Homo sapiens: one gene and its partners. The gene in region 7 interacts genetically with the main gene of each other region. Each region holds a gene or a part of one and is shown on either strand. Other genes may lie near its edges.

What was found.
Region 1: changes in EGFR (region 7) and CD151 together harm fitness more than expected from each alone (negative genetic interaction), as found in Homo sapiens cells (one large-scale study listed by BioGRID).
Region 2: changes in EGFR (region 7) and PRPF38B together harm fitness more than expected from each alone (negative genetic interaction), as found in Homo sapiens cells (one large-scale study listed by BioGRID).
Region 3: changes in EGFR (region 7) and EDDM3A together harm fitness less than expected from each alone (positive genetic interaction), as found in Homo sapiens cells (one large-scale study listed by BioGRID).
Region 4: changes in EGFR (region 7) and SAV1 together harm fitness less than expected from each alone (positive genetic interaction), as found in Homo sapiens cells (one large-scale study listed by BioGRID).
Region 5: changes in EGFR (region 7) and EMG1 together harm fitness more than expected from each alone (negative genetic interaction), as found in Homo sapiens cells (one large-scale study listed by BioGRID).
Region 6: changes in EGFR (region 7) and EIF3B together harm fitness more than expected from each alone (negative genetic interaction), as found in Homo sapiens cells (one large-scale study listed by BioGRID).

Annotation. Positions count from the first base shown.
Region 1 is NC_000011.10:835,952-839,489, reverse strand, and holds the end of CD151 (CD151 antigen), read right to left. Parts: intron 3,428-3,538; 5' UTR 3,421-3,427; coding exon 3,337-3,420; intron 3,240-3,336; coding exon 3,048-3,239; intron 2,722-3,047; coding exon 2,647-2,721; intron 2,241-2,646; coding exon 2,136-2,240; intron 2,031-2,135; coding exon 1,872-2,030; intron 1,549-1,871; coding exon 1,462-1,548; intron 1,358-1,461; coding exon 1,298-1,357; 3' UTR 659-1,297; downstream 1-658. UniProt on the Homo sapiens protein: Structural component of specialized membrane microdomains known as tetraspanin-enriched microdomains (TERMs), which act as platforms for receptor clustering and signaling.
Region 2 is NC_000001.11:108,694,933-108,699,137, reverse strand, and holds part of PRPF38B (pre-mRNA-splicing factor 38B), read right to left. Parts: intron 3,437-4,205; coding exon 3,368-3,436; exon of another isoform or gene 3,358-3,367; intron 3,096-3,357; coding exon 2,944-3,095; intron 2,862-2,943; coding exon 2,801-2,861; coding exon of another isoform or gene 2,787-2,800; intron 1,578-2,786; exon of another isoform or gene 1,329-1,577; coding exon of another isoform or gene 1,289-1,328; exon of another isoform or gene 1,281-1,288; coding exon of another isoform or gene 1,275-1,280; exon of another isoform or gene 1,121-1,274; intron 535-1,120; coding exon 311-534; intron 1-310. UniProt on the Homo sapiens protein: May be required for pre-mRNA splicing.
Region 3 is NC_000014.9:20,744,234-20,748,926, reverse strand, and holds EDDM3A (epididymal secretory protein E3-alpha precursor), read right to left. Parts: upstream 3,041-4,693; 5' UTR 2,935-3,040; intron 1,373-2,934; 5' UTR 1,347-1,372; coding exon 903-1,346; 3' UTR 547-902; downstream 1-546. UniProt on the Homo sapiens protein: Possible function in sperm maturation.
Region 4 is NC_000014.9:50,637,113-50,641,317, forward strand, and holds part of SAV1 (protein salvador homolog 1), read right to left. Parts: intron 3,782-4,205; coding exon 3,638-3,781; intron 1-3,637. UniProt on the Homo sapiens protein: Regulator of STK3/MST2 and STK4/MST1 in the Hippo signaling pathway which plays a pivotal role in organ size control and tumor suppression by restricting proliferation and promoting apoptosis.
Region 5 is NC_000012.12:6,973,208-6,977,174, reverse strand, and holds part of EMG1 (ribosomal RNA small subunit methyltransferase NEP1), read right to left. Parts: intron 2,837-3,967; coding exon 2,735-2,836; intron 2,624-2,734; coding exon 2,482-2,623; intron 2,086-2,481; coding exon 2,027-2,085; intron 1,947-2,026; coding exon 1,797-1,946; intron 1,480-1,796; coding exon 1,366-1,479; 3' UTR 30-1,365; coding exon of another isoform or gene 1-29. Other genes in the region: LPCAT3 (lysophospholipid acyltransferase 5), read left to right, coding at 1-29. UniProt on the Homo sapiens protein: S-adenosyl-L-methionine-dependent pseudouridine N(1)-methyltransferase that methylates pseudouridine at position 1248 (Psi1248) in 18S rRNA.
Region 6 is NC_000007.14:2,357,827-2,362,031, reverse strand, and holds part of EIF3B (eukaryotic translation initiation factor 3 subunit B), read right to left. Parts: intron 1,323-4,205; coding exon 1,130-1,322; intron 1-1,129.
Region 7 is NC_000007.14:55,196,560-55,200,764, reverse strand, and holds part of EGFR (epidermal growth factor receptor isoform a precursor), read right to left. Parts: intron 2,049-4,205; coding exon 1,902-2,048; intron 450-1,901; coding exon 352-449; intron 1-351. UniProt on the Homo sapiens protein: Receptor tyrosine kinase binding ligands of the EGF family and activating several signaling cascades to convert extracellular cues into appropriate cellular responses.

The DNA of each region.
Region 1 (3,538 bases), on a different chromosome or scaffold from region 7:
GCCCTAAGGAGGCCCTGCTGTCCAGGCAGTGCTGCCAGCAAGCACCCCAGGTCAGATGTCCCTGCTGCCCAGATATCTGGCGTGGTGTCCTCTGGTAGGGGAGAACGGGTCTGCCTGAGGGTCTACAGTTCTGAGCCTTAAGGACAGGAACCTGGGCAGTGGGGGGCACAATCAGTGACCGAGCCCTGGCTCCCATCTCCAGGGTACCTCTGCCAGACACCAGGCTCTGGTACCTCCTACCCTCTGGCCCCCAGCAGGGCCTATAGGCTCCTCCATGTAAACCCCCTCACCCTACTGCCCCCACCCCACCTGCCTGACACCTCTTACCTGGGCACGGCCCCCAGTCTGCACCCTTCCCACGTCTGCTCCCCACCATGGCCAGAAGGGTTTTGGAAACCATTTTTCCTCTCCCCCAGGGGCTCTGAACACACCATCTCACCATTTAGGAACATGTTCAGTTCTTTCTGCTGAGGCCTGTGCTCAGCTGTCCCTGGCATCAGACCTCCCTTCCCTGGAGCCCCATGGGGGGTGTGTCCTCCTGGCTCTGCCCTTCTTTGTCCTGACACTGGGCGGGGCGGGGGTGGGTCTGTCTGCCCTGCTGGATGCGAGGGCCCTGAGAACAGACCACCATCTGTTACCAGCACAGCGAGCTCGTCCATCTGCTCTACAAGTGTTTATTGAGCACCTGTATGTGGCAGGGATGGTTGTAGGCATCTGGGTACAGCAGTGAACAAAACCAGGAAGGCCCTGCCCCGCAGAGGCACATGAACAGGGCAGTGCACAGTGACCACGTGGCATTTCGGGTGGTGGTGACTGCGGTGGGGAAGACAGCAGGGGCGCTGTCGAGGGAGACGAGGGCTGGGTTGGGAGGGGCAGAGGCCCAGGCCCAAGGGTCAGAGCTCACCTGGCTTCCCCAACTGGGATGGGGCCATGTGGCTGCAAGGCAAGGCCCCAGTTCCTGAAGGGCCTGGGGTGTGAAGGGTTTCTCCCCCTGCTGGGAACGCTCGGCCTTGCGCCACTCAGCAAGGCCCCTTCCAACCTGCATCTGACCACCAGGCAGAGAGTGTGTCTGGGGAGCCCCACAAAACACCCCCCAAACTTCGCCCCGCCAGCCCCCCTCACCTCCCCTGCTGGGCATTGGTGCGCAGCAAAAGGCACTTGAAGCTGCCTCTGAGGTTGGGGTCCCCAGAGGTTATGGTGATGGCACAGGGTGGGTGTCATCAGGGAGCCCAGCCCCTGGTACTCAGTGGTCTCAGCTCAGTAGTTGGGTGCAGCAGCAGCAAGGCCCAAGGCAGGGTCAGTAGTGCTCCAGCTTGAGACTCCTGTACAGGCAGCACGTGAAGATCATGCCAAAGACCTGTGTGCAGAGCCGGGTGGGCGTAAGCAGACGTCATGGGGCCACCAGCCACCGCCCTGCCCCGTGTCCCCAACAAGATGACCGCCACCCCCATGTGCCCTCACCTGCACACAGGCAATGCCGATCCCCACAGCCCCAATGACCCTCAGGTGCTCCTGGATGAAGGTCTCCAACTTGGTGATGCAGCCGCCCTGCGGGGCGCGGATGGGTGTTGAAGGCGGGCCCAGGGGGCACCTCCCACTGGCCCCTACTGCCTCCAGCCTCCAGGGTGTGGCCAAACCCACCCCTAGCACCTAGGCAGCCAGGCCACCAACAGCTCAGCCAGCCACTGGGCTGCCCACCCACTTCCTCGTAGATATTGGAGGTGTGGTCTCACTGCCCACATCCGGCCACTGGGGTGACCCCCCACCTCCTGGTAGATATTGGAGGCGTGTCCCACTGCCCACAGCCAGTCACTGGGGTGCCCCCCCACCACCTCGTAGACACTGGAGGCATGATCCCGCTGCACACCCACCTCCACCTTGTAGATGTTGGAGGCATGGTCTCGCTGCCCACAAAGAGCCACCACCGTCTTGCAGCAGCTGTCTGGGACCACACGGCCACCGGCCTCCTGTGAGCGGATCCACTCACTGTCTCGCCAGTCCTGTGAGTTGTTGCTGCCACAGCAGTGGAACTGCATCAAGAACAAGGCTGGGGTTGAGACCTGGGGCCAGAGGCTCCTGCAGAGGTCCAGGGAGGCCCTGGGGATGCACGCGCCCTCCCAGCACCACCCACCCACCTCCTGCTGCAGCTGGTCCACAGCGCTGGTCACAGCCTCATGGCCCGGCTGGTGGTAGCGCTTGGTCATGGTGTCCTTCAGGTTCTCCTTGAGCTCCGTGTTCAGCTGGGGTTGGGGTGCAGGAAACTTCAGCCTCAGTCTAAGACCTTCCAAGGTGGGGCTGGCAGAGCCCCAGGATGGCCGGTGGGGAGGCCCGGGGCCCAGCTCAGAGCCACAGGGAAGGGCTGAGGTCACACCTCGGCATGAGGGGAGGTTGGGTGGTGCCAGGACCGTCACCAGGGTGACAATGAAGTGCGGCAGAGGCAGAGAGAGCTTCTGGATCCCCTGGACACCTGCCTGACCCCATGTGCCCCTGCAGAGACCTAGACCCCATCTCCAGGGCCCAGTGGCACATTGGTTAGCTCTGGGACCATGGGGGTGGGGGTTGGGGCTAGCCACGCGTGTGCATGTGTGTGTGTCCGCCCCGCCTGTGCATGTCTGTGTCTCTGAATGGCCTGCCCAGGCCCCTCACCTGCTGGTAGTAGGCGTAGGCGAGGATACCAGCGATGATCTCCAGCAGAAAGATGATGAGGAGCAGGATGAAGTACTGGGGGGGGCAGCACAAGGGCACCCTTGTTCTGAGGCCTAGTGCCTAGACCTAGTGCACCTCAGAGCAGAGTCCCCACCCCGGCTCCCCAGGCTCCAGGTGGGGGCTGAGGGGCGGCCACCCTCCCTGAAGCTTTCTTGCGGAGCTGGTGTCTTCCCTCAGCTGGTCCAGCAGGAACGTGGGGACCCACAGGACTAGGCAGGTGTGGAAGGACCGTGACCCCCCCCCCAGGTGAGCACAGCAAGGCACAGGTTCAAAGCCTGCAGCGACAACCTCCTTGGGCCCATCTGCACCACCCCCACCCCGTGGCCCTGCGCCCTCCTGACCAGGCGCAGCAGGTTCCGACGCTCCTTGAAGGTGGCGCAGCAGCCCAAGACCCCAGTCACCATGACGACAGTGCCCGCCACCACCAGGATGTAGGCTGTGGCCAGGTAGGTGCCTGAGGCCAGCAGGCTGATGTAGTCACTCTTGAGGGCCAGCGTCCAGATGCCCACTGCCATGACAGCCAGGCCAGCCAGCTACAAGCAGTACACAAAGGTCATCGCATCTGCCCAGGTCTGATGGTGGCCCGGGAGGGGTGGGGGTGGGGGTGGGGGCAAGGCGACCCCTCCTCACCCAGAAGCAGCAATTGTAGGTAAACAGCAGGTACTTGAGGCAAACGGTGCCACATGTTGTCTTCTTCTCGTTGAACTCACCCATCCTGGGGCTGAGGAGGCAGGGGAGGGGTCAGCGGGGCCACAGCACCGGGCCCCTGACTGGGAGACGGATAGGAGGGGACACAGGGCCAGGCGCGGTGGCTCACGCCTGTAATCCCAGC
Region 2 (4,205 bases), on a different chromosome or scaffold from region 7:
AAATTTCAATGAATAAAACATATGCAATTCTTTTCACAGTAAAACTTTCAACAGCATTATTTATTCATGTCCTCAAGCTTAAGGCCATGTCAAGAATCATTAAAGCAAAAAATTTTATTGTTCTCATTTACAGATGCATAATTTTATAGAAAAAGCCCTGAAAGGAAGAAAATAATCTTTGGGGGGTAAAAGTGACAAACTAATAAAATGAACAGTAAAAACAAATTCCTAAGAACTTGCTATTTCTCAGAACCATTAATTTTGTATAAAGCATATATGAAAAATAAGCATAATTCAAGAGTGACATTACCTTGAACGTCTGCGTTCAACATGTCTGTCTATTTCCTCAGCACCTTCCTTCCCATCTTTCTTGATTTTTCTAGGTCGGGTTTTAATCTGTTGATCAATATTCTTTTGAACTGGAACTGGAATTCTTGGAAACAAGGTAGAAAACCACTCCAGTTTTGTGAGAAAAGATCGTAGCATTTCTCCAATGGTCATTACACAGCCTCCACCAGCCTTCACATCTAGGTCCTACAGAAACACAAAAGATACCCTAGCCGTCAAAAAAAGTATTTCCATATATACATGAATATTATAAAAATATTACCATCTTTGGAATCTCAATACAAAAAAAACTAACAGAAAAATTTTATTTTCATATCCTGATCTGACAATGAATGAACAGAAATATTTGGGCTTAGTGTGTGCATGCAAGTGAGAACAAACCCTGCAGCCTCACAGGCATAAAGGGAACTGATCTCACTCAGTTAACAATATGAAAAAGCCCCTTACATTTCTAAACTATGCGGAACGATTGACTTAAATTTACATTCCACATACCTACTATGTATTTATTTCTGTGGACATATTTGCACACATCATATACCTTGCACCATAACCTAGCTACATATGATCTACTTTAGATAATTCCTGTCTAAAGGTTATCTTTTAACAGCTCTAATATAAAATGAAGCCCTAATAAAACTGGAAGCAATAGCAAACCAACTGCCATGAAGCAGTGAGGTTTCTAATTTAGTTATGTAGAAAATAAATAAATGAACAAATAATTGGAAACGCATAATCCATGATGACCATTGTCTCTGAAAAGGGTCATTACCGCATGAAGGCCTTCTTGCTATGCCCTCTCACAGCTCAGGACATGTTAGTCAGCTATTGTCAGTCCCAAACCTATAGTGCAAGCACACAAGGAAAGTGAGATTTGTTATCTAAACAGGAAAACAAGAGCTAAAGGTAAAACTGCTTGCACTCACACACATTTAAGTGTTCAGATATACAGTATTTCCAAATATAATCGCTGCAGATATCTAAGGAAGAAAACAATAAGTTAGCTTAAATAGAGGACCTCAGATTTGTAAACACAATAAAAAACATAAAATAGAGGCATCCAGAAACAAAACCAATACAACACCAATTATGAAGAGGAACATGCTTTTTTAAAGACAGAAGGGAGAAGCACTTCAGTCTGAAAAACTGATCTAAAGATAAAAAGACCTTAAAGATTGTGATTTAAAACACGTTTTGCTTCTTCTGAGTGAAGTAACTCAGTTAACAGGCAAAAAAAAAAAAAAAAAAAAAGAGAAAAATAAAAATTCTCCATGTCTAAATGAGATTTTTTTTTTTTTTAGGTGTGCATGTAATAACAAAACACAATAGATTTCCATTAGAACCATCCTTTAATTCAATAAATTCTTTGGATGAACTCTGTAAATAGACTACTGACACATAGCACTCAAAAAGTCTTATGAACCTTAAAACACAAAGTAGTAGACTGGGTAGACATAGGGACAATACAGCTCATCATTTCATTTTTGACATGTTGGACTTCACCATGCAAGTAAATTAATGCATATATGATATTTTGTTTTGTTTTGAGAAAGGGTCTTACTGTGTTACCCAGGCTGGAATGCAGTGGCAATGATCTTGGCTCACAGCAAATTCTGTCTCCTGGGCTCAAGTGATCCTCCCACCCCAGCCTCCCAAGTAGGTGGGACTAAGATGCATACCTCTATGCTCAGCTAATTTTTAAACTTTTTTTTGTAGAGATGAGGTCTCACTATATTGCTCAGGCTGGTCTTGAACTCTCGAAGTGTTGGGATTACAATGTGAGCCACCACGCCCAGCCAATGCATACACGATTTAAATCTAACTTAGTATTTCAGATTTCAAATTAGGGAGACTCGAATTACAATTTAAAAAATTTCTTTTTTAAAGGTGTGTGTGGTGTACTAGGAGTCAGAAAACTGGAATTAAAATTTTGTCACCTTGAACAAGTCATCCAAACACTTAGCCTATTTATGTAACACCCAACTCTTCAATTCTGCACTTCTATGCAAGTGGGAATACTGATATTTGGAAGAAGCTAGAGGGTGAAGAACTGAAATGTTCCAGAAGAAAAAAAAGCTACAATTAGTATTCTATGTGCATATCTTTTATTATCTGTTCGATCTTGAGCATGCCCCATCTTGAAAAGTCACTATTAACTATACAATTCAGGATCAATACAATACACAGAACATAATTAAGAAGAGAAAATTTTCCAATAGTTACCAAACACATTTAAACAATTTTAAAACAAGAAAATAAAACTTCAGAAATTTACCCTAAAATACATAAAAGCCATCAGGTCTCAGTAAAAGGACATTAATTCCAAAAGTATCTCACTGAAATAAATTTAACTACAGGAAGTTCTTGAAGACATTAAACCACCAATAAATAAAAGATAATAAAAATATGAGAGTAATCAGAAGAAAACAAATTATTACCCTTGTTGACATACCTCTTCATCATCAAGGAAGGATTCAAACCAGTCCCACAGATCTGTAGGGGGCTGTGTATATCTAGAATTACAAAAGACTATTATTAAACACATGTGAATTAAAATGAGATATTTACTGGAAATGTACATAAATGTACGCTCACCTTATATACATAAATCCAAGCGCTCTAATATATGGAGAGTCTGTGTGTGTTATAAGACCCATCACTTGCTTTCGAGTTAACTTCAGGGTAAATAATTTGTATAACAGGCAAAATGCTGTAGAAACAATTCCTCCTGTTCCAACACCTCGAACCTTTAGGGGAAACGAGTTAAGAAAAAGTAGTAAAATAATTAACGGACTCTTAACACCAATTGATTAATCCTGTTAGGTATCAATAACAATCCATAATCCAGAACTAAGGAGCATTAAAAAGTAACACTTTTCTAACCCTATTTCACTGAACACTTGAATTTGGATTAAAAAAATTGTCACTCAAGTGTATAATTGACAGGCCTCTAGTTCTCTAAATATAAACTTAGTTATTAGACACAGAAAAACTGAAAAATGCACGTACTTCTACTTACCCCTCCGCACATCCCTGTCTGGCCCGCTGTTTTCCTGCTTCCTTTCTCCCATGGTTCAACGTGCGTGACCTGAAAATAGAAAAGAGGAACACAACAAACATTCATACTTTGAATTTGTTTAAAAGCCTGATAAAAGTAAACCCAAGTCCATAATAGAGCAGCTCTTCCAAAATTATTTTGGCATTAAGTATATGTTTACTGATATTAAGTGTGTAAATCATTTTTGGAAAAACTGCTTAGACATTTAGACAGCACCCATAAAGCTACTAGGGTTTAACAAAACCTTAATAGCTTTGCAGAGGAGAAATCCCACTCAACTAGCTTTATAAAGAGCTGATATCTACATCTGGGAGTCAGAAAATTTCTATAGTCTCACTTGGTTGCAAAAACTATTTGGTAATATTTTAACTTTGATAATATTTGACAATTTAACTTATGGGTTGCTTAACATTTTCCTTTAAAAATGGATTTAAGTCTCCAATTTAAAGCAAAAAGTATTAACGTTAAGCATTAATTTAAAAACTTCAAAACACCTTCAATAGTTCAATTTTATTGTAATTTAAAATCTACATTATAAAATTAAGGAAAATTACTTGAAGAAAATTTTCTAAAACAGTAACGAGTTACTTGTGATGCAAAATTATGGAACTTTTTATTTGTACATTTTTTCCACCAGGGTCAGGTTTATTCCTGATTAAAGATAAAATTACAAAGGCCACACTTACAGAGATCATTGTTGTAATTAAGCTTCAGCCTAATTATGTGTGAACCAATCCAATTATTCCCCAGAATATAAATTGTGTCAAAAACTGAGTGTGAATAGTCACTGGCATATACT
Region 3 (4,693 bases), on a different chromosome or scaffold from region 7:
GGAGACGGAGTCTTGCTCTGTCATCCAGGCTGGAGTGCAGTGGCGTGATCTCGGCTCACTGCAACTTCTGCCTCCCAGGTTCAGGAGATTCTCCTGCCTCAGCCTCCCATAGCTAGAACTACAGGTATGTGCCACCAAGCCTGGCAAATTTTTGTACTTTTAGTAGAGACAGGGCCTTACCATGTTGGCCAGGCTGGTCTCAAACTCCTGACCTCAGGTGACCCACCTGTTTCAGCCTCCCAAAGTGCTGAAATTATGGGCATGAGTCACAGTGCCCAGCCCACTCCTTAAAACTGGATTTTGACCCTTTTGATTATTTCAAATTGCTACCACGATGAGTGCTTACATCACTACTTGTCTCCAGTTTAGCACACAATCATTTATATCCACATGATATACATAAACATATCACATACATTAGACACAGACACATAAAGTGCACATTAAACCCCTTGCACAGCCATAGGCAAAAATAGCCTAGATCACCGATACCCATACCAATCACACGATACATACTCTGCACACATAACATATATAAGCGTCACATACGTTAGAATAATATATTTTATTTAAGAAAAGGAGGGTCGTTCAGCTTGGGTAGGTATAAAGAGAGTCAATATCAGGAAAGTCTTAGGTTAGTCGAGGACAGATGCCATATGAGCTGAATCTTGGAAAAAATGTGGGTGTAAATTAGGCAAATTAGGACAAAATTGTATTACAGATACAGAAACCACACAAAGATTTGGTATCAAGAAATCACGAGGTACATAAACTCTAAGTAGTTGGAAAACACTGACACATAAATGTAAGCGGGGAGTGGCAGGGGCTATTGATGGAGGCAGGGCCCACCACTTTGGAAGCACTGAATACTCTACCAATATCTGAGGATGTGCATAGACTTTCTAGTTGCTGATAGGTTCTATAATCCTCAGGTCTTCTATGTTATCAACATATCCATCTACGCCACAATGGAATTCAATGTAGCTGAAGCTTCTGCTCTCTGTGTACCTATTGTTGTACTTCTCCCAGTGACACTCGAGTACTTTGAGGGCACCTGGGGCCCATACATATGCATTTCTATATCGGTCGCTCCCCTTCTCATTGATGCATGCACGCTGAATTTTGAACCATAAGCTATAGATGAACATATGAAAGCTCTTGCCTTTCAGAGCCTCTTTTTCTCTCATGAGGACATCACATTTGTACTCTTTGAATTCTCGACTTGGACTTAAGTAATGAAGTTTTATGAATTCTCTCCAGTAAATGTTGTTACTGTATACACACAGCCTGCAAAGGATGCAAAGCAGGGCCAAGAGTATGCCCCAAATCTTTAGAGAGGATGTCATCTCAGTCACCACGTCCACCTGCGTGTCTACAGGGAAGAGAAAGAAAAGCATTAACCAGACTATACTCAGAGAGCTGAGCTCCACCTTAAAATTCCTTTCCCTGCCAAGCAGGTACTTGGGCACTATATTGCTATTTGGTTCCATATTAGAAGATGATGATTCTCATTAAAGAATACAGTTTCTGGGCTGGGCACAGTGGCTTATACCCGTAATCCCAGCAGTTTGGGAGGCCAAGGTGGGTGTATCACCTGAGGTCAGGAGTTCGAGAAACACCGTGGCCAACATGGTGAAACCCCATCTCTACTAAAATACAAAAAGTAGCTGGACATGGTGGCTGTAGACCCAGCTACTCGAGAGGCTGAGGCAGGAGAATCGCTTGAACCTGGGAGGCGGAGGTTGCGGTGAGCCGACATCACACCTCTGCACTCCGGCCTGGGTGACAAAAGCAAAACTCCGTCTCAAAAAAAAAAAAAAAAAAGAATACAGTTTCTAAGAACTAAAAATATGCTTTAGCCTGTGAGAGCTAACACAAATTTGGAAAATATAGATAAAGTACCTTTTGAGAATTTCAAATATCTCCTGTCTACCCTGTCTTCTACCCAATTTGAGGAGCCAATCACTATCGAGCTCTCTTTTACCAAATAAGCTCTCAGGAGATCATGTGTCCAATAGAAAAATGACATTTTAAGCGTATTGTCTGCAAAGTGGAAAAGATTGTTGCATTTTAAGGGAATGTAGAAGATGAGTAACTACTTGGGAGGTGGTTCCTAGGCAGAAGGCATTGATTCTGGAAACCACAGCCCAGGCTGCAATTGCACTTCTCTGAAAAATGATGTTTTTCCAACCTTGACTTCCTTATAACACTTTCCCCAAAGTCTGGGTGAAACATGTGATCATTATTAACTATCGGCATCCCTTCTCAGAGGCCATTTCCCTAATTACTGCTATTACAAATGATCTTCATTTGTTAGAGCTTATTGACAATGCCATCATAAAAGGACATCAGTTTAGAACTGTTGCTGTAATCAATCAGGCACCAAAACTAAAACAGTCCCCCGCAGAGCTACTGTGGTCACAGCATAGGATGTATGGTCGTTTGAAAAAGTTATCTCTTTACCAGCTATCTGTCCTCATTTGCCATGAGGAGTATTCCTGGCCCTACTGAACCTCTAGCCTGATTCATAGCTCTGAGTATCGGTGTCCTCAGATAGGCCTAATCACAGCTCCCTACAGACCTGCAAGAGTCTAATGAGATGCAAGCATGTGAGAGCACTTCTAAAGATGTCAAATGCCCACATCAGGCACAGGGTTCCTCATCTGTGGAACCCTGTCCTGGTGATAAAGGCCTACACAAGATAGAAGAGTAGGATGCAAGCAGCTTTAATGCACTGTGCTTAGGAGGACTGGCGGTGAAGGAAGGGAGGGGCAGGGAAAAGCCTGTATCAGTGGGACTGAGGCTAACCAGAATTCAGACCTTTGTTTTCCATGATTTGGATCCTTCTCCATTGTTTGCTATCTAAAAGTTCAATCAGCCTCCTTCCAGTGTTCCTGGCTGTCCCCCGAGCAACCTCAGCAGAGCCCTTCTTACCCTACTTGGACTCTGAGTTCAGGTCACTGATTGTAGTGGGGATCAGCATGTGGATCTGAAGAGCAGAGTCTGCGTCCTCCTCCTTTTCTCAGAGCCCTGGAAATCTACAGCAGTGGAGAAAGGAATAGTAGGGGGAGCTGCAGGGCTCCAGCTGATTGGTAGCCGAGGTGGTGATGGGGAACAGCCTTATTATGTGAACTTGTCCCTGTATCGTTTCATCTGGAACACTTGGGCTCACTCAAACAGTAGCCTCGAGCAAAGGCTACAAACATCAAAGGCTGAGCCCTGGGTACAAAATGATTGCAAGACCCTAGGTGACCCCAGAAAAGGGTTATCTGGTGCTATCAGGAGACAACCAGAGACTTAGCTCTGCTCTCAATTCTAACAAACTTCTGGGGAAGTCCCTGGAGGGTTATGCTATGTTACATGGGAACTTCACTGAGGAAAGCCACCTTTTTTTTTTTTTTGAGATGGAGTCTCGCTCTGTTGCCCAGGCTGGAGTGCAGTGGCGAGATCTCGGCTCACTGCAAGCTCCGCCTCCCGGGTTCACCCCATTCTCTTGCCTCAACCTCCTGAGTAGCTGGGACTATAGGCGCCTGTCACCACGCCCAGCTAATTTTTTGTATTTTTAGTAGAGACGGGGTTTCACCGTGTTAGCCAGGATGGTCTCGATCTCCTGACCTCATGATCTGCCTGCCTCAGCCTCCCAAAGTGCTGGGATTACAGGTGTGACTCGCTGTGCCTGGTCTTTTGCCTTTTTTTTTTTTTTGACAGGGTCTTGCTCTGTCGCCCAGGCTGGAGTGCAGTCGCACAAACACTGCTCCCTGCAGTCTCAACCTGCCAGGCTCAAGCAATCCTCCCACCTCAGCCTCTTGAGTAGCTGGGACTATAGGCATGCAACACCATGCCTGGCTAGTTTTTTGTATTAATTTTTGTAGAGACAGGGTTTCACCATGTTGGCCAGGTTGGTCTTGAACTCCTGAGCCTAGCTAAGCCTCAACACATCAGCCTCTAAAAGTGCTGGGATTACAGGCATGAGCCACTTGGTCAGGCCAGAAAATCACTTTTAATGTTGTGAATTGTGAGACCTTCATTGAGAGGTGAAAGAATATCTAGTGAACACAGTGGCCAAATAGCTATGAATGATTAGGTAGCCAGTATCTGAAATTTCTCTACTCAGTTTTTTAATTATAACCTTTAGCTGTTTGGTGACACTGTACTGCTTACTATTAAAATGTCACATAGCCTGGCCATAGTTTCTACAATGCTACTATACGTAACATCTGACTGTGAAGTATAGGTCACAAGGTGCTGGCTAAGTTGTTTTTCAGGACCTCAAGATTCAGTCCTGAACTCAGCTCAAACTGACAAGACCACAACTTCTTCAACTGAGTTTGTGCAAGTGTTCAATGGTTACCTTTAACATCACAGCCGGAATTTTCCACCATATTTTCCATGCCAACTCCCCACAAATTGGCAAATGTGACCAATACTGGTTCATCAACACTAGTCAAAGTTACGATTTATGAATAAAGTAAGACTCTTGCAAATCTTTTCTAACAACACTTCCAAAGGCTGCTCCTAGCCAAACCACCTTAGTTGATTTTCTCACTGGGCCACCTTATTGTTGGAATGACAGAAGGTTCAGTTTATATCCAGAACTTATCTTCAAACCCCCACTCCTGTGAAGCAGTCCTTGAGTAATAGAAAATCATGTGCTGATAGACTGGATGGACGGGAGATAGTCTTAGAGCAGGTT
Region 4 (4,205 bases), on a different chromosome or scaffold from region 7:
TGTCAGTAATACAACATGCAAAAACTGGAAGGTAAATATATTTAATTGGACTGCCAATTTCACTCAGTTACTTGAGAGCTGCAAATTTATTAATAGATTTAGATTTCTTTGGTAGGAAGCTCTGTTCTTTTTAATGGGAAACTCCAACCACTTGTGAACATAAATTAGAGTGATACTGTAAGAAATACTCAATGAGCCTCCATGAAGAAACAGTTATAAGGTATTTCTTAGAACATCCACCATTCTTGTAACTTAAGATTTTATGTGCTCCTTGGAAACAAATTCATAATTCCTAACAAAAAATCTTAATCTCCCAGAGTTAGCTAAGAGGCAATTCAGCAATGTCTACTAAGTCAAGATGGTTACCATTTATACCAGGTGAACTACAACAATGTTAAACTAATCTATCATCTGTGTACTTTCTAGCAAGGAAAACAAAGAACAAAAATAAGATGGTAAATATTATACTTATTTTTAAGACACGAATATCATTCTGTATAAGTATTCAAGTTTTGTCTAAAGGAAGAAAAAATCTTCAAACAATTTTGTCAGTTTTTTTTTTTTTTTTTTTTTTTTTAAGAGATGAAGATCTCCTATGTCTCCCAGGCTGAAGTGCAGTGGCTAATCACAAGCACAATGCCACTACTGATCGGCACAGTAGTATTAACCTGCTCCCTTTCCAACCTGGGCCAGTTCGCCCCTCCTTAGGCAACCTGGTGGTCCCTGCTCCTGGGAGGTCACCATACTGATGCCAAAGAGTACAGACATCCGACTGGCATAGTGCATCACAGCCCAGAACTCCTAAGCTCTAACAATCCTGACTCTGCCTCTCAAGTAGCTTGGATTACAGGTGCACCACCATGCCTGGCCAAGTTTCTGACTTGCCAATCAGCATTCAGCATCAAGAGTACGATTATGGGTAGAAGCAACAAAATCAGATTAGAGAAAATCCTTCTGGGGGAAGAAAGTGCACTCCAAGAAGGGCACAGATGTGAAAAAACTGCAAAGCATGGAATGGAAATCCTATTCCAAATTCTTTCCTCTGTTGCTTCTACATAGTTACTACCCTTCTGCCTATAATCACCTAAGTGTTCCTTCTTTTTCTGAAAAGTATAAACTCCCATTCTTTCCTTCTTAACTAGCCAAGAAATTTGCTTCCACAAGTTTAACTTTTAGTCATTTATACTGTATATACACAGGTAAATCATTCCGAAAATTGGGTGTAAAACACTCCAGTAGTCCATGCTTCTAGCATCTCTTTCACTCTGTTTTTCCTAGGGCAGTATTCTATTCAAATACTACTTATAAATAAGCCATATATACAAATGCCAGTTGCTATAATGCTACCAAAAATAACCTGTCCACACTGCATGCTGACTTCAAGATCAACAGTGCTGCTATCCTCAGCTCCAGGTATCACCATGTAGCCTAAGTCCCCTGCACCCACCCGCCATAACACTGTGTCCACTCCTCCCTCTTTTTCACCTGTATCCAGAGCAGGGTCAATGGTGACACTGCAGGACTGCCAAGCCACTGGAATAAAAAATACCCCTGCCACACACTGCTGAGGACTAGTGTTTTGGTGTGTGTGTGAGAAATAACAGAAAGTAAATATGTTCTTGACAATGTTTTTGCTGTCAAAGATTAAATTTTATTTTATTATATTTTATTTTGAGATGGAGTCTCGCTCTGTCACCCAGGCTGGAGTGCAATGGCGCAATCTTGGCTCACTGCAACCTCCGCCTCCCGGGTTCAAATGATTCTCCTGCCTCAGCCTCCCGAGTAGCTGGGACTACAGGCGCGTGCCACCATACCCAGCTAATTTTTTGTATTTTTAGTAGATACAGAGTTTCACTGTGTTAGCCAGGATGGTCTCGATCTCTCGACCTTGTGATCCACTCGCCTCAGCCTCCCAAAGGGCTGGGATTACAGGCATGAGCCGCCGCACCCGGCCTAACTTTTAAAATTTTATCCTATAGTTCAGCTTGAGTACAGTTATACCAAGCATTATAGACTTTTGTGAGCAGACACAGGAACATAACTTTACAAAAATTAAATACAAATTTAAAACACAGTCTGTTTCTAAATCAAGTTTTAGAAGTATATGCAAAAATTGTGTTGGTAAATTACTGTGAGAGATAGGATTAAAGAATTTCAGGATTAAAGAATTTCAGATTCTCAATTGTCTGAAAAACAAAAGGAAGAAACATGCAAATTTTTTTTGCAAAAATGTCTCTTTTTGTTGTGATAATTGATTCTCATTATCTAATTCATAGATAACCACTCACCCTTTGTTGATAGAATATTAACCATTTCCATCCTCTTCAGCAACATTAATTAGAATCAACTAGAAAGCAACAGGCTTCCAGACCTCTTGTTTAAGTTTTTAAGCAGTAAAGAAGTATAGTACTTGCTCCCTTTTTGTCAGTCTGGCCCATTTTGGAAGAATTACAACCTATTTGCTAGTTTCCTTGAGTTTTATAGTTAGCTCACAGAACCACAGAATTCAAAAAGACTATAATCTTCAGGAATCTGTTTCTTTCTGTAAGAAACCAGGAATTCCATTTAAGTACTATCTCTTCCCCCAAAAAGGAAAGATTATGCTATTTCTTATTAAACATGACTATAGAGTAGAAATAACATACAACAGAAAGAATAACTCTCCTCAACCATATCCACCCCCAGAAATACTAAGGTTAACAGTTAGGCACATATTCTTCCAGATTTAAGGAAAATAAAAACGCATACAGATATTATGTACTATTTAGAATCAGCATACAAACATACAGCTGTAGGTCAGGTGGTATCAAGGGACAAAGAAAAGAGGAAAATAGGAAAGAAAATGCCATCTGCTATCATTCCTTTTTCTGGCACTAGTAGGGGGGCAGTCAGGGTCTCTCATGCTCTGTCACCCAGGCTGGAGTGCAGTGGCACAAGCATAGCTCACTGCGGCCTCAAACTCCTGGGCTCAAGCAGTCCTCCCACCTTAGCCTCCCAAGTAGCTGAGATCACAGGCATACACCACAGCATGCTGCTAATTTTTAAATTTTTTATAGAGACAGAGTCCTGCTATGTTGCTCAGGCTGAACTTGAACTCCTCAGATCAAGCTATCCTCCCACCTCAGCCTCCCAAGTACTTGGGACTACAGACCATGCAAAAAGCCTGGCTAATTTTTAAAATTTTTCTGTGGAAATGGGGCTCTCGTTATGTTGCCTAGACTGGTCTCGAACTCCTGGACTTAAGAGATCCTCCTGCCTCAGCCTCCCGAAGTGCTGGGATTACAGGTGTGAGCCACTGTGCCAAGCCCAGGTCCTTACTTTTATCACAAGTACTGTATCACTTATTTACAAATTAATCTTCTCCTATGAGAATGTAAGTTTCTTACTTGTATCCCTAATAGCAGAGGCCCGCACACAAAGAAATGAAGATTCTATAAATGTCTGAAGAACTAATATTTCTAATTAATGATTTTCACACATTATAAACTATGACATCCTTTATTCAAGTCACGTATTACTTAGAAGCCGAATATTATTAAGAGTAAAATATGGCACACTACTTGGATCGAGCAGCCCAGAGACTCCATTCAGCCCTTCACTCACTCCTCAAACAAATTTGTGTTGTAAATGTACTTACTTCACAGGGGCTCGTGCGTAAACCTGAAGCCAGTCAGGAATTTCTGCAGTATGATATGGATTTGCAGGTACCAGAAGGGACTGATTTCTTTCAGTTTGCTGTGGCTGGTATGTGACAGGAGGTGGTTGATCATACCGAGGTACACTAAGAAGAAAGGAGTGACATTCTTTAGGATAAAGGTCTTAAAATCTAAACAAGAAATTATAAAGAACAAATAATACTTAAGCATTTTTCAGTGTGCCTTCTGTCCAAACTGACTTACACCACCTGAAAGGTAATGTATTTTTAAGATATTTCTTCTGGCTGGTATTTAGTCTTTTCAAAAACAGGTTCAAAGGAGGATATGAAAAAGCTGGAACTAAGTTTTAACCTTTATACAAAGGCTTAAAACTAGAATAGTAAATTCCCACAAGAAATAGTCATCAGCTGTAAATTCATATCAGAAAGGTTGACAGTTTCTAAGAAAGGATGTTTCCTTCCTCCCGTAGGCTGAAAATGGGGGTTAGGATATGTAGTGACGCAGCAGTGAGTATTGTGTTTGAAATATCTCTATCCAATGCAGATAACT
Region 5 (3,967 bases), on a different chromosome or scaffold from region 7:
GGAAAGAGAAGTTAAAGAAGATGGAATAATCCATTTCCCTGGTAAGTTAATACAGCTAAACTAAAACTACCACCAGGTTACAGAATAGAGCAACAGACTGGAAAAAAACAATAGTATTAGAAATCTGGGGTGAATTCCAAGGATTAGCCTGGCTACTAAGGAACACAGTATGGGCAATGACTACTGTGACTTATTGAGGCATGCTAGGAAACATCTGGAAGGGCTATAGACCAGGAATTACAGGAGTAACTAACCAGCCTTCCAAACTCCTCTTGTCTTGCAGGTGGCCTGTGCGGGACTGGTGCAGAAACTACTCGTCTCCCTTTTCACAGCACTCCTTTGCCCCAGAGCAGAGAATGGAAAAGCCAGGGAGGTGGAAGATCGATGCTTCCAGCTGTGCCTCTGCTGCCAGCCAAGTCTTCATTTGGGGCCAAAGGGGAAACTTTTTTTTGGAGAAGGCGTCTTGCTTTGTCACCCACGCTGGAATGCAGTGGCGGGATCTCAGCTCACCGCAACCTCCACCTCCTGGGTTCAAGTGATTTTCCTGCCTCAGCCTCCCAAGTAGCTGGGAATACAGGCACGCCACCATGCCCAGCTAATTTTTGTATTTTCAGTAGAAACGGGATTTCACCACGTTGGCCAGGCTGGTCTCGAACTCCTGACCGCAAGTGATCCACCCGCCTCCGCCTCCCAAAGTGCTGGGATTACAGGCGTGAGCCACCGTGCCCGGCCCAAAGGGGAAACTCTTGTGGGAGGAGCAGAGGGGCTCACATCTCCCCTCTGATTCCCCCATGCACATTGCCTTATCTCTCCCCATCTAGCCAGGAATCTATTGTGTTTTTCTTCTGCCAATTTACTATGATTGTGTATGTGCCGCTACCACCACCCCCCCCATGGGGGGGTGGAGAGGGGTGCAAGGCCCTGCCTGCTCCACTTTTTCTACCTTGGAACTGTATTAGATAAAATCACTTCTGTTTGTTCAGTTTTTCACCACTAGCATTCCTGACTGCTCTCTTTCACAGTTCTTCTCCATCATCAGGGTTCTCTCCTTTAGCACATGGGAATCTGGGAGCTAAAGCCTGCCTTCAAAGCATGGAACCAAACTGCAAACTCTGTAACCTCCTATCTGTCCCTGAAGTCCCGGGGAACAAACAGTTTTACACCACTGGATACTTTAGGAACCCCAAAACAACCAGGTTTGCAAGAACAGTATTCATAGGATAAACAAATAGCAAATGTACAGCCTTGGCTTCCCCAAACTCCACAGTCTCAGTGCAGAAAGATCATCTTCCAGCAGTCAGCTCAGACCAGGGTCAAAGGATGTGACATCAACAGTTTCTGGTTTCAGAACAGGTTCTACTACTGTCAAATGACCCCCCATACTTCCTCAAAGGCTGTGGTAAGTTTTGCACAGGTGAGGGCAGCAGAAAGGGGGTAGTTACTGATGGACACCATCTTCTCTGTATACTCCACACTGACCTAAGAAAAGAACAGTTTTGTCAGCCAACTCTGTCACTCAGTAGCTGTTTCAGCCCTTCTTTAGGGCAGGAAAACTATGGCTGAGCTAGTATTTCAGCTGTGCTGTTGAATATCAAATCCCTACAAAGGATGAAGAAGGTCCTAACTGTGACTTCCAATTATGGCAGCAGCCCTCAAAGGATGTGCCCTGGGGCAGGGTGTGGAACTGTCATGTGTCTTCTAGCTCATTGTAAGCATTGTTAAAATGCCTACTGCTCTGGGAATTCTATACTAAGTTCAGCTCTACCAAGAATTTCAGGGTTGAGCCCAGACCTTACCTTGCCATGGGCAAAGGCCCCTACCACAAAAACAATAGGATCACTGCTGGGCACCAGCTCACGCACATCACTGACAACCGGGATGGAAAAAGAAGTGCCAACTTTCATACATCCAACTGGAAAGTGATCTGATACTGGATTCTTAATTACCTAAAGTAAAAAAGAGAGAAAAGTCAGCCCCAGAAACATTCCCAGAACCAGCCTTCAACTAACAGGTTTCAATACCTCACCTTCAAAAGCTTCTGGGGGCCATCAGCTGCTCGAACACTGAGCTTGTGTAAAAGTTGAACTAGAAGGGGGAAAAAAGAGTTCAGAGCTAGATGGAGACCACAGTCCTTCTGTCCAGTCATCGAACAAGGAAAACCCCATGGATAAGATGAGTTCCCTGTGTGCTTTATATCTAGACTGGACTCCTGAAATGTTAGGAACAAACAGTTGCCAAGCATATGGCTAGCTGTACAGTGATGGGTTCAGACTCCCTCTTTCACTCAGCCAGGAAGCTACTGCAAGAACAGGAGTGGAGTTTCCACAAACATAGAAAAATAATAACAGTCCTTGTCCTGGTATTAATCATGTTGTTCTCCCATTTTCTCGCTTAAAAATCCACATTTAGTTCTCCCTTTTCCTCTTCCTCCCTTCTTCCCTACTGACAAGTTCATTCTAACTTTGTTCTAAGGCTTCTTACCCATGAGGCCACAAAAGCGGTCAAAGGTTCTGGGAATTCGGGTCTGGGGATTCACTTCAATCAGAACATTCTTCTGTGTATGGATATAAACCTGTAGCAAGCCAGCTCGGTTCAGGGGACTATCCATCAGCATCAGCAAACTCTGAGCAAAGCAGAAACCGAGACATGGTTAAGGCTGAAGAGAGGCAGCACTCAGCTGCCAACCCTTCCATACAGAGGCTCAAAGGGTTGTGAGCACTGTCCCTGGAGTTACCTGGTGGGTGATATCTGGCCGCGCTTCCCCAGGGTCCCGTCCATTCTTCAACAATATAGACTTGTGCTTGTCACAGTTGAGTAGCTCATATGTCTTCCCTACCTGAAGAACAGGGAACATGACGAGAGAACAGCATAAGCTTCTGTTACCTAGCCCCGTGGTTCTTCAAGTGTGGTCCCCAAACTACCAGCAGCAGCTGCACCTGGAAACTTGTTAGGCAAATTCTCAGGCCCACCCTAGACCTACTAAACCAGGAACACTGGGGGTGGAGCCCAGCAAGCCCTTCGGGGGATTACTGTGCAGCCTTATTTGCACTCCCCAGTGAATGGTCTGAGAGGGAAACAGGAGGAAGGGCACAACCTGTGACTTCACATTATCTACTAATACACTGGATTTAATTAAAAAACCTGTGGCTGTTAGGCAAGGCCAATGAGACATCCTGGAACTAGGCAGGAGTTAGTAGTTAGCAAGGCTGAATGCTGTGTTTATTACAGGAGCAGTAAGTAGGTACTGTGCAAAATATCGAGTCACCACCCTCAGTTTGCGTACACCAAACATGCACTAAGTGAAGAGCTGCAAATCTGAACAAGAAATGTGAAGGCCGGGCGTGGTGGCTCACGCCTGTAATCCCAGCACTTTGGGAGGCCGAGGCGGGCAGATCACAAGGTCAGGAGATTGAGACCATCGTGGCTAACACGGTGAAACCCCATCTCTACTAAAAATATAAAAAATTAGCCGGGCATGGTGGCAGGCGCCTGTAGTCCCAGCTACTTGGGAGGCAGAGGCAGGAGAATGGCATGAACCCAGGAGGCGGAGCTTGCAGCGCCACTGCACTCCAGCCCGGGCAACAGAGCGAGACTCCATCTCAAAAAAAAGAAATGTGAAAACTAATGATGCAGGAGGCAGTTTAATCAAAGAAAACTCTCAGAAGTAAAAGGAAGAGGGGTTATTCCCAGTTTTAAGACGGGCATGGGGGCAGATGCAGTGGCTCACGGCTGTAATCCCAGCACTCTGGGAGGCCAAGGCAGGCAAATCACTTAAGGTCAGGAGTTCAAGACCAGCCTGGGCAACATGGCGAAACCCCATCTCTACTAAAAATACAAAAATTAGCTGGGCATGGTGGCACATGCCTGTAGTCCTAGCTACTTGGGAGGCTAAGGTGGGAGGATGGCTTGAGCCCAGGAGACAGAGATTGCAGTGAGCCAAGACTGTACCACTGCACTCCAGCAAGAC
Region 6 (4,205 bases), about 53 Mb from region 7:
GCCAAGATCGTGCCACTGCACTCCAGCCTGGGTGACAGAGCAAGACTCTGTCTCAATAAATAAATAAATAAATAAATAAGCAAGCAAGCAAGCCAGGCGTGGTAGTGTGCGCCTGTAATCCCGGCTACTTGGGAGGGTGGGGCAGGAGAATTGCTTGAACCCGGGAGGCGGAGGTTGCAGTGAGCTGAGATCACACCACTGCACTCCAGCCTGGGCAAGAGTGAGACTGTCTCAAACAAACAAACAAACAAAAAAAACTTAAAAGTAGTCTAATATTGTGTATTACAGGCAAGATTAGAAAGAAGCTCAGAGAGGCCGGGCGCGGTGGCTCAGGCCTGTAATCCCAGCACTTTGGGAGGCCGAGGCGGGTGGATCACAAGGTCAGGAGATCGAGACCATTCTGGCTAACATGGTGAAACCCCGTCTCTACTAAAAATACAAAAAATTAGCCGGGCGTGGTAGCGGGCGCCAGTAGTCCCAGCTACTAGGGAGGCTGAGGCGGGAGAATAGTGTGAACCTGGGAGGCGGAGCTTTCAGTGAGCCGAGATTGCGACACTGCACTCCAGCCTGGGCGACAGAGCGAGACTCCGACTCAAAAAAAAGAAAGAAAGAAAGAACCTCAGAGAATGTTTCATTATAACACGAGTAACTGAGGGTCAAGAGGCCATCCTTCAACTGACTGCCCAACACAGAAAATGCAGCAGCATTACCTGTATTTGATAATTCTAGAAACTAAAACTATTCTAGTTAGTTTTTACTTTATTTATTTATTTTAGAGACAGAGTCTTGCTCTGTCACCCAGACTGGAGTACAGCTACGTTATCATAGCTCACTGCAGCCTCCAACTCCTGGCCTCAGGCTTCAAGAGTGTTGGGAGTTTATGCATAAGCCACCATGCTGGCCTATTCTAGATAATTTTAAAAACTTTAAAACCTTAACTTAAAAAAACAAACTTTATCATCTTCTCATTCACTGCTCTGGATAGCTTCCAGCTGAGGGCGGCCTGAAGAAGTGAACGGCCCACGTGCCTGGGCAAGGCAGGAGCTGTGTTAGTAAGGATCTCCTGCAACACTCCCTCATCATGACGTGCCAGACACAGATGATACTTCTCCAACAGGAGAACACTCACCCTTTTGTCTTCCCATCCTCTTCAGGATAAAAATCATTTGTGATTTTCCCAAACTTGGAAAAGATCTTGTGGATGACATTTTTGAGTTTCTCAAGTCGGTCGGGTCCCACCTGAGGGACATTGTCCACTACAATCACCGAATCGATTCCATCTGCTTCCTGGGGCCGATCTTTGAGTACATCTCCCAGTAATTCTGAACAAGAGAGATTTTTCAAATGATCATTTTTACCAAGAAAAACATTAATACATTAACTGAGCACACTAAACAAGTCTTCAAGAAGAGACAATGAATTGTCTAAATGCTTTCACTGTGAGCAAAAGAAATCCTAACCCTAGCTTGTTTCAGATTTTAAACATGACAGCTGGGGGGACTGGAACTCTCCTCTCTCCCTTTGATGGAAATGTAAACAGTCAAGACAGGTCAATTAAGTTCTGGTAATAACCAAAGACTACAGGAGAATAACAGTGAAAAGCTTTTAACAATGCACAATGCAAATGAAGAAGACCATCTCAAGAATATCCACTATTAGATCTTCCAGAGATGCCTAGATTTTGAAAGGTTTGTTGCAACATCTAGGCAGGCAGAATCCCATCCCAATGTCAATGAAAACTGACTTTTTACAGAAGATTTTAGCAAACAAGTAAATATTTAAATGCTCAATATATTCACAGCACATTTGTGCTGTGAATACAAATTACCAGAAATTATTCAAGGAGGAACCCTCTCTCGAGTGAACTGGGATGAAAGTAGTAACTCTTCTCCCACCTCCTGTTCCCAGTGATTTTCATGTTTTCAGGCCGTGAACTGGATGGCCATTCACAGGGGATGGGGAAAAAACCCAAAGAGGAAGCGCGTCTGGGGTGAGCTTCCCCACCTCTCTCCGCTGCAGAGCCCACCACCACGCACCTTCGTTCAGAACAATCTTTACCCAATATTCCTTAGGTTAAAAAGCTCTAAGGATAAACAACTGAACTGCAGGAGACAGGGATGTGACAGTGTCTTTCCTACTCACGTAACACTCAACACAACGCCTGACACCGGACGTGGGTGTCGCATCAAGCAGTTCTCCAGGGGCCACCAGCTGGGTGTCCTCTAACTTAATCCAATTCAGACACTATCTACCAGGAATTAGCATCAGATCCCACAGGCTGAAGGCTCAGCCCCAAAGACTGGCCCCCATTTCAGATGGCAGTCGCAAGTAGTGGGCTGTCACCTCCGGTTCTGACCGACAGGCTACAAAGCAGGGCTCCCACTATCCCTCGCTTCTTGGGTTCCATTAATTTACTGCAGCAGCTTACAGAATTCAGAGAGCTAGGTTTGCCAGCTTATTATAACGGACGTTACAGAGGATATAGACGAAAAGGCAGATGGAGGAGAAGCGCAGAGCCTCCCTGTGCTCTCCAGGCCACCACCCTGCAGAAGCCTCCACCTGTTCCGCTGCATGGAGCCCCTGAACCTGGTCCTTTTGGGTTTCTATGAAGATCTCATTATAGAGGCGTGATTAATGACATCACTGAGCACCGGTGATCAACTCAACTTTCAGCCCTCTTCCTTCTGGGTGGCAGGGGGAGACCTAAAAGGTCCCACCCTCTAATCACGTGGTTGGTTCCCTGGCAAGGAGCCCCAGCCATCAATCAAGTCCTCGTCTACAAAAAGACACTTACCACTTTGGAAATTACAAGGGTTTAGACGCTGAGTGCCAAGAGCCAGGCAGAGCCCAAATACACATTTCTTAATTATATCACAAAGAGCCTTTTTGAAAAACACTATCAGGGCAGAGACCGGCACTTAAACTAGGAGACTGGAGAATATACAAGCTCCTGAAACAACTTTTTTTTTTCTTTGTAAAGAGACAGGGTCTTGTTATGCTGCCCAGGCTAGCCTGGAACTCCTGGGCTCTAGCAATCCTCCTGCCTCAGCCTCCCAAGTAGCAGGGACTACAGGTGGGAGCTGCCACCCCCACTGAGATTAAATAACAGTATTTTTTTCTTAGTGGTAGGTGAAGCTGTTCTTGATGTGATGAAATGCCTCGCAGGGCTGCTGGAAAGCATCACGTGTCAGAATTTAGAACACGGCCAGGCTCAGTGGCTCACGCCTGTAATCCCAGCATTTTGGGAGGCCGAGGCAGGCAGATTACCTGAGGCCAGGAGTTCAAGACCAGCCTGGCCAACATGGTGAAACCTGTCCCTAATAAAAATACGAGAAAAATGATCCAAGCATGGTGGTGGGTGCCTGTAATTCCAGCTACTGGAGAGGCTGGGGCAGGAGAATCGCTTGAACCCAGGAGATGGAGGTTGCAGTGAGCCAAGATCATGCCACTGCACTCCAGCCTGGGAGACAGAGTGAGACTCCATCTCAAATAATAATAATAATGATAATTCCAACATACTAAATATGCAGATGTCCGAAAATATTCTTTACTGTATTTATTCTCAAAAGTTGGCTGGGCATGGTGGCTCACTCCAGCGACAGAGCAAGACTCCGTCTCAAAAAAACACTTTCGGAAATATTGAAAACTGACCCAGCATGGTGGCTCACGCCTGTAATCCCAGCATTTTTGGAAGCCAAGGAAGGCAAATCACATGAGGCCAGGAGTTCGAGACCAGCCTGGCCAACAAGGCAAAACCCCATCTGTATTAAAAATACAAAAAGTAGCCAGGCATGGTGGCACATGCTTATAATCCCAGCTACTTGGGAGGCTGAGGCAGGAAAATCGCTTGAAGCGGGGAGGCAGAGGCTGCGGTGAGCCATTGCACTCCAGTCTGAGCAAGAGAATGAGACTCTGTCTCAAAAAAAAAAAGGAAATATTGAAAATACTGCCTTAAAAAATAATCGCCGTTTTATTTTCAACGATGCTAAAATTGAGACGAACAAGAGAAAAAAAAAGGGAAAAAGGCAGTTGCCAGTCACTGCAGTGCCGGACACCCTGCTATGGAAACTAGTCAAATCCTAGGGTAACTTCTAAAGCACTTACCATACAATTAAATAGCCTGACAAGCCTGATCTGAATTTATAAGGCTGCAATAAAAAGCTCAACTTTTACACAAATTGGGTACTCCTTCCCACAAGCTCAAA
Region 7 (4,205 bases):
AGAAGTGGAGAGTCAGGGGTGTGAAGCCACGTCTGCCTGACACCAAAGCCCAATAGACCATGCTTCTCTCTTAGACCCAGCTGAGGCTTTGGCTAGCCGGACAGTGAGGACGAGCACCAGAGGAGAGTTCAGACGGGGAGGGGGAGATGGAGTTGGGTGGGCCCCACTCACGGATGCTGCTTAGTTCACGATGTGGCCTGCGCCTTACTGAGGCTTGCTCTAATGCGCTGGAGGGTTTAATAATGCGATCTGGGACACAGGGAGGCCAGGCTGGCATGTGACAGAACACAGTGACATGAGATGCTCATTAGAGGGACTCTTCCCAATGGAAGCACAGACTGCAATTTGTACCTGAATGACAAGGTAGCGCTGGGGGTCTCGGGCCATTTTGGAGAATTCGATGATCAACTCACGGAACTTTGGGCGACTATCTGCGTCTATCATCCAGCCTGGGGAAGGAATGAGAAAAAACAGTGCAATTAGAACACTGGAAGAAATGATAAAGATGGCATTGCTTAAAGAAGGCATTGGTGATGCGACACTTCCAGTCAAATAAGTGATGAAAGAACCAAGTCTTTGTGGTAGACTTTTCTGTCTTGGCCAGCTAGTACTGGTTACTGTTTAAAGACCATGCCAGCACTGTACATTTGAATCAGAATAACAATAATGCCCTCTAGTTTTTCTACGCCCACTCTTCCTGGGGTCAGCATCCTGTGTTACGCCTGAGGGGATGGAGCAGTGTGGGTCTGTACAATTGCTCTCCATGAACTATCCTGACTGCAGGGTGCCCTGCACCAAGGTCCTCACTCAACATCCACCCTTAGCATTCCTTCAGGTAGGAAACCAGATGCAACTTAGAAAAATAGGCTTTAAAGAATTTGGGGTTGGGACTGGGCCCCTACCCCCGGCGTCTCCAGTACAGCACATACCCAGTGGGCATGCATGCAAGTGAGAAGGCTGGTGGGCATGCATGCAAGTGAGAGGGCTGGCTGTGCTGGCAACTTCCACAGGAGGACACACTGTTAACTGTGCTGCTGCATGTGACTACCCAACAATCTAAATCCAGATTAAACAATTTGGAGGTATGGCTACTGCCTGGAAATCCTCATGCCTCTTGAGGGATCACATTTATTTTCCATCCACAGCATATCAAGCTATTTTAGGCCAGACTGCTATGTGACCTTAGACAAATCACGTGGCTTCTCTGGATCACAGCTTCCTTAGCCCAAACCAAGGAAGTTAAAAAAGATCAACTCTGTGGCCTAGAGTTCAGAAAGGCATTAATATTTACATTAACTTGGCTCTGTCATATTCCCTATACAACTTTCTTTTGCAAATGCTCATCCCATGCATGTAATGCTACCTCCAGAGCCCACTGCACTCGTGAATCTGGTAGAATAATAGCATCAATCAAATTACACACTCTTATTTAGATTGAAATGTTTAAATGCCACACTGCAGAGACTTCACATAAATCCACTGGTTTAAAAGGTTTAAGTCAAAGCAGAAATGTTGACTCTATTAGCCTTATGTTGTTACTCACTGCCATGCATTTAAAAACATTCAGTCTCTCTGGTAACAGGCTTCAAAATATAGGGCAACTCGGTATTTCATTGAGTAACTCAGCGAATAGAATATTTTGGTGTAATGGCTTGCGGAAGACTTTAGTTTTATTTATTTGCTTGCAAACATGGGCAAATGTCAGGTCATACTGCCCAATGAGTCAAGAAGTGTCTTTAAAAGAATGCTTGAAGGGGTATTTACAGATGTTTCTGGATTTGTGTGCCTGCCTTAAGTAATGTGATGACATTTCTCCAGGGATGCAAAGGCCTCAGCTGTTTGGCTAAGAGCAGCCACCAAGGCTCAGCTAGGCAGTGTGGACAGACCCACCAGTCACTCACACTTGACCATGATCATGTAGACATCGATGGTACATATGGGTGGCTGAGGGAGGCGTTCTCCTTTCTCCAGGATGGAGGAGATCTCGCTGGCAGGGATTCCGTCATATGGCTTGGATCCAAAGGTCATCAACTCCCAAACAGTCACCCCTGAGAGGATGAAGCAAGAAAAGAAGGCAGTGGGATCATGAATGAACAATCACAATCCCTTGCTTTAGTCATCATTACTGGTTACTGTTTCTTGATGTTTAGAAACCTACATTTCTGTAGTCTTGGGCAATTTGCTTCAATGCTGGAAGCCTCAGTCTACCTCTCTATAAAGTGGGGTAATAGCAGTATCTGTTTCACAGGATTGCTGTAAGGACCCAACAAGATAATACAACTGAAATGCTTAGTGCAATGCCCAGCAAGTAGTAAGTGACTGATAAGTGGTAAACTTTGGTAATTAACAATAAAGACAACAGTAACTCTACTAGCATAAGTATTATGCTCCAGACAGGATACACACTCAGTCACCTGCTCTGAGGGACCTGTATCTGCAGAATGAGGAAGATGCAGATTCTGAACAGGGCTGTAAACTGCACATTTTTAGATCATAAAAAAATTGGAAATGAAAAAGCTTAAGTTCCATTTGATAAAAATAAAAACCTCAGGAAGAAACTGAATCCCTGAACAGACCAATAATGAGCTCCAAAATTGAATCAGTAATAAATAGCCTACCAACCAAAACAAAGCCTAAGACTAGATGGATTCATAGCCAAATTCTACAAGATGTACAAAAAAAGCTGGTACCATTCCTACTGAAACTATTCCAAAAAAATTGAGAAGGAGGGACTCTTCCTTAACTCATTCTATGAGGCCAATGTCATCCTGATACCAAAGCTTGGCAGAGATACAACAAAAAAAGAAAACTTCAGGCCAATATCTCTGATGAACATAGACATAAAAATCCTCAACAAAATACTGGCAAATCGAATCCAGCAGCACATCAAAAAGCTTAAGCCACCACAATCAAGTCGGCTTCATCCCTGGGATGCAAGATTGGTTCAACATATGCAAATCAATAAATGTGATTCACCACACAAACAGAACTAAGGACAAAAGCCACATGATCATCTCAATAGATGCAGAAAAGGCTCTCAATAAAATTCAACATGTTTAAAATTCTCAATAAACTAGGTATTTAAAGAACAAACCTCAACATATTAGCCATCTATGGCAAACCCACAGCCAACATCATATTGAATGGGCAAAAGTTGAAAACATTCCCCTTGAAAATTGACACAAGACAAGGATTCCCTCTCTCAACACTCCTATTTAACATAGTATTGGAAGTCCTGGCCAGATAAATCAGGTGAGAGAAAGAAATAATGGACATCCAAACAGGAAGAGAGGAAAACAGCTATCTCTGTTTGCAGATGACATGATCCTATATCTAGAAAACCCCATAGTCTTGACCCAAAACCCCTTAAGCTGATAAACAACTTCAGTGAAGACTCAGTTGTACAAAATCAATGTACAAAAATAATTAGCATTCCAATATGCCAACAACAGTCAAGCTGAGAACCAAATCAGGAATGCAATTCAATTCACAATTGCCACAAAAAGAATAAAATACCTAGAAATACAGTAAACCAGGAAAGTGAAAGATCTCTACAATAAGAACCACAAAACACTGCTTAAAGAAATCAGAGATGACACAAACAAATGGAAAAACATTCCATGCTCATGGATAGAAAGAATCAATATCATTAAAATGACTATACTGCCCAAAGTATTTTATAGATTCAATGTTACTCCTATCACACTACCAATGAGATTCTTCACAGAACTAGAAAATACAATTTAAAAATTCACATGGAACCAAAAAAGAGCCTGAATTGCCAAGGCAATCCTAAGCAAAAAGAACAAAGCTGGAAGCATGATGCTACCTGACTTTAAACTACAGGGATACAGTAACCAAAACAGCATGGTACTAGTACAGAAACAGACATACAGACCAATGAAACAGAATAGAGAGCCCAGAAATAAGGCTGCACACCTACAACCATGTGATCGTTGACAAAGTTGACAAAAAAAAAAAAGCAATGAATAAAGGACTCCCTACTCAATAAATGATGACTAGCTAGCCATGAAGAAGATTGAAACTGGACTCCTTCCTTACACCATACACAAAAATAAACTCAACATGGATTAAAGACTTAAATGTAAAACCCCAAACTATAAAAACCCTGGAAGACAACCTAGGTAATACCATTCTGGATATAGGAATGGGCTAAGATTTCATGATGAAAACACATCAAGCAA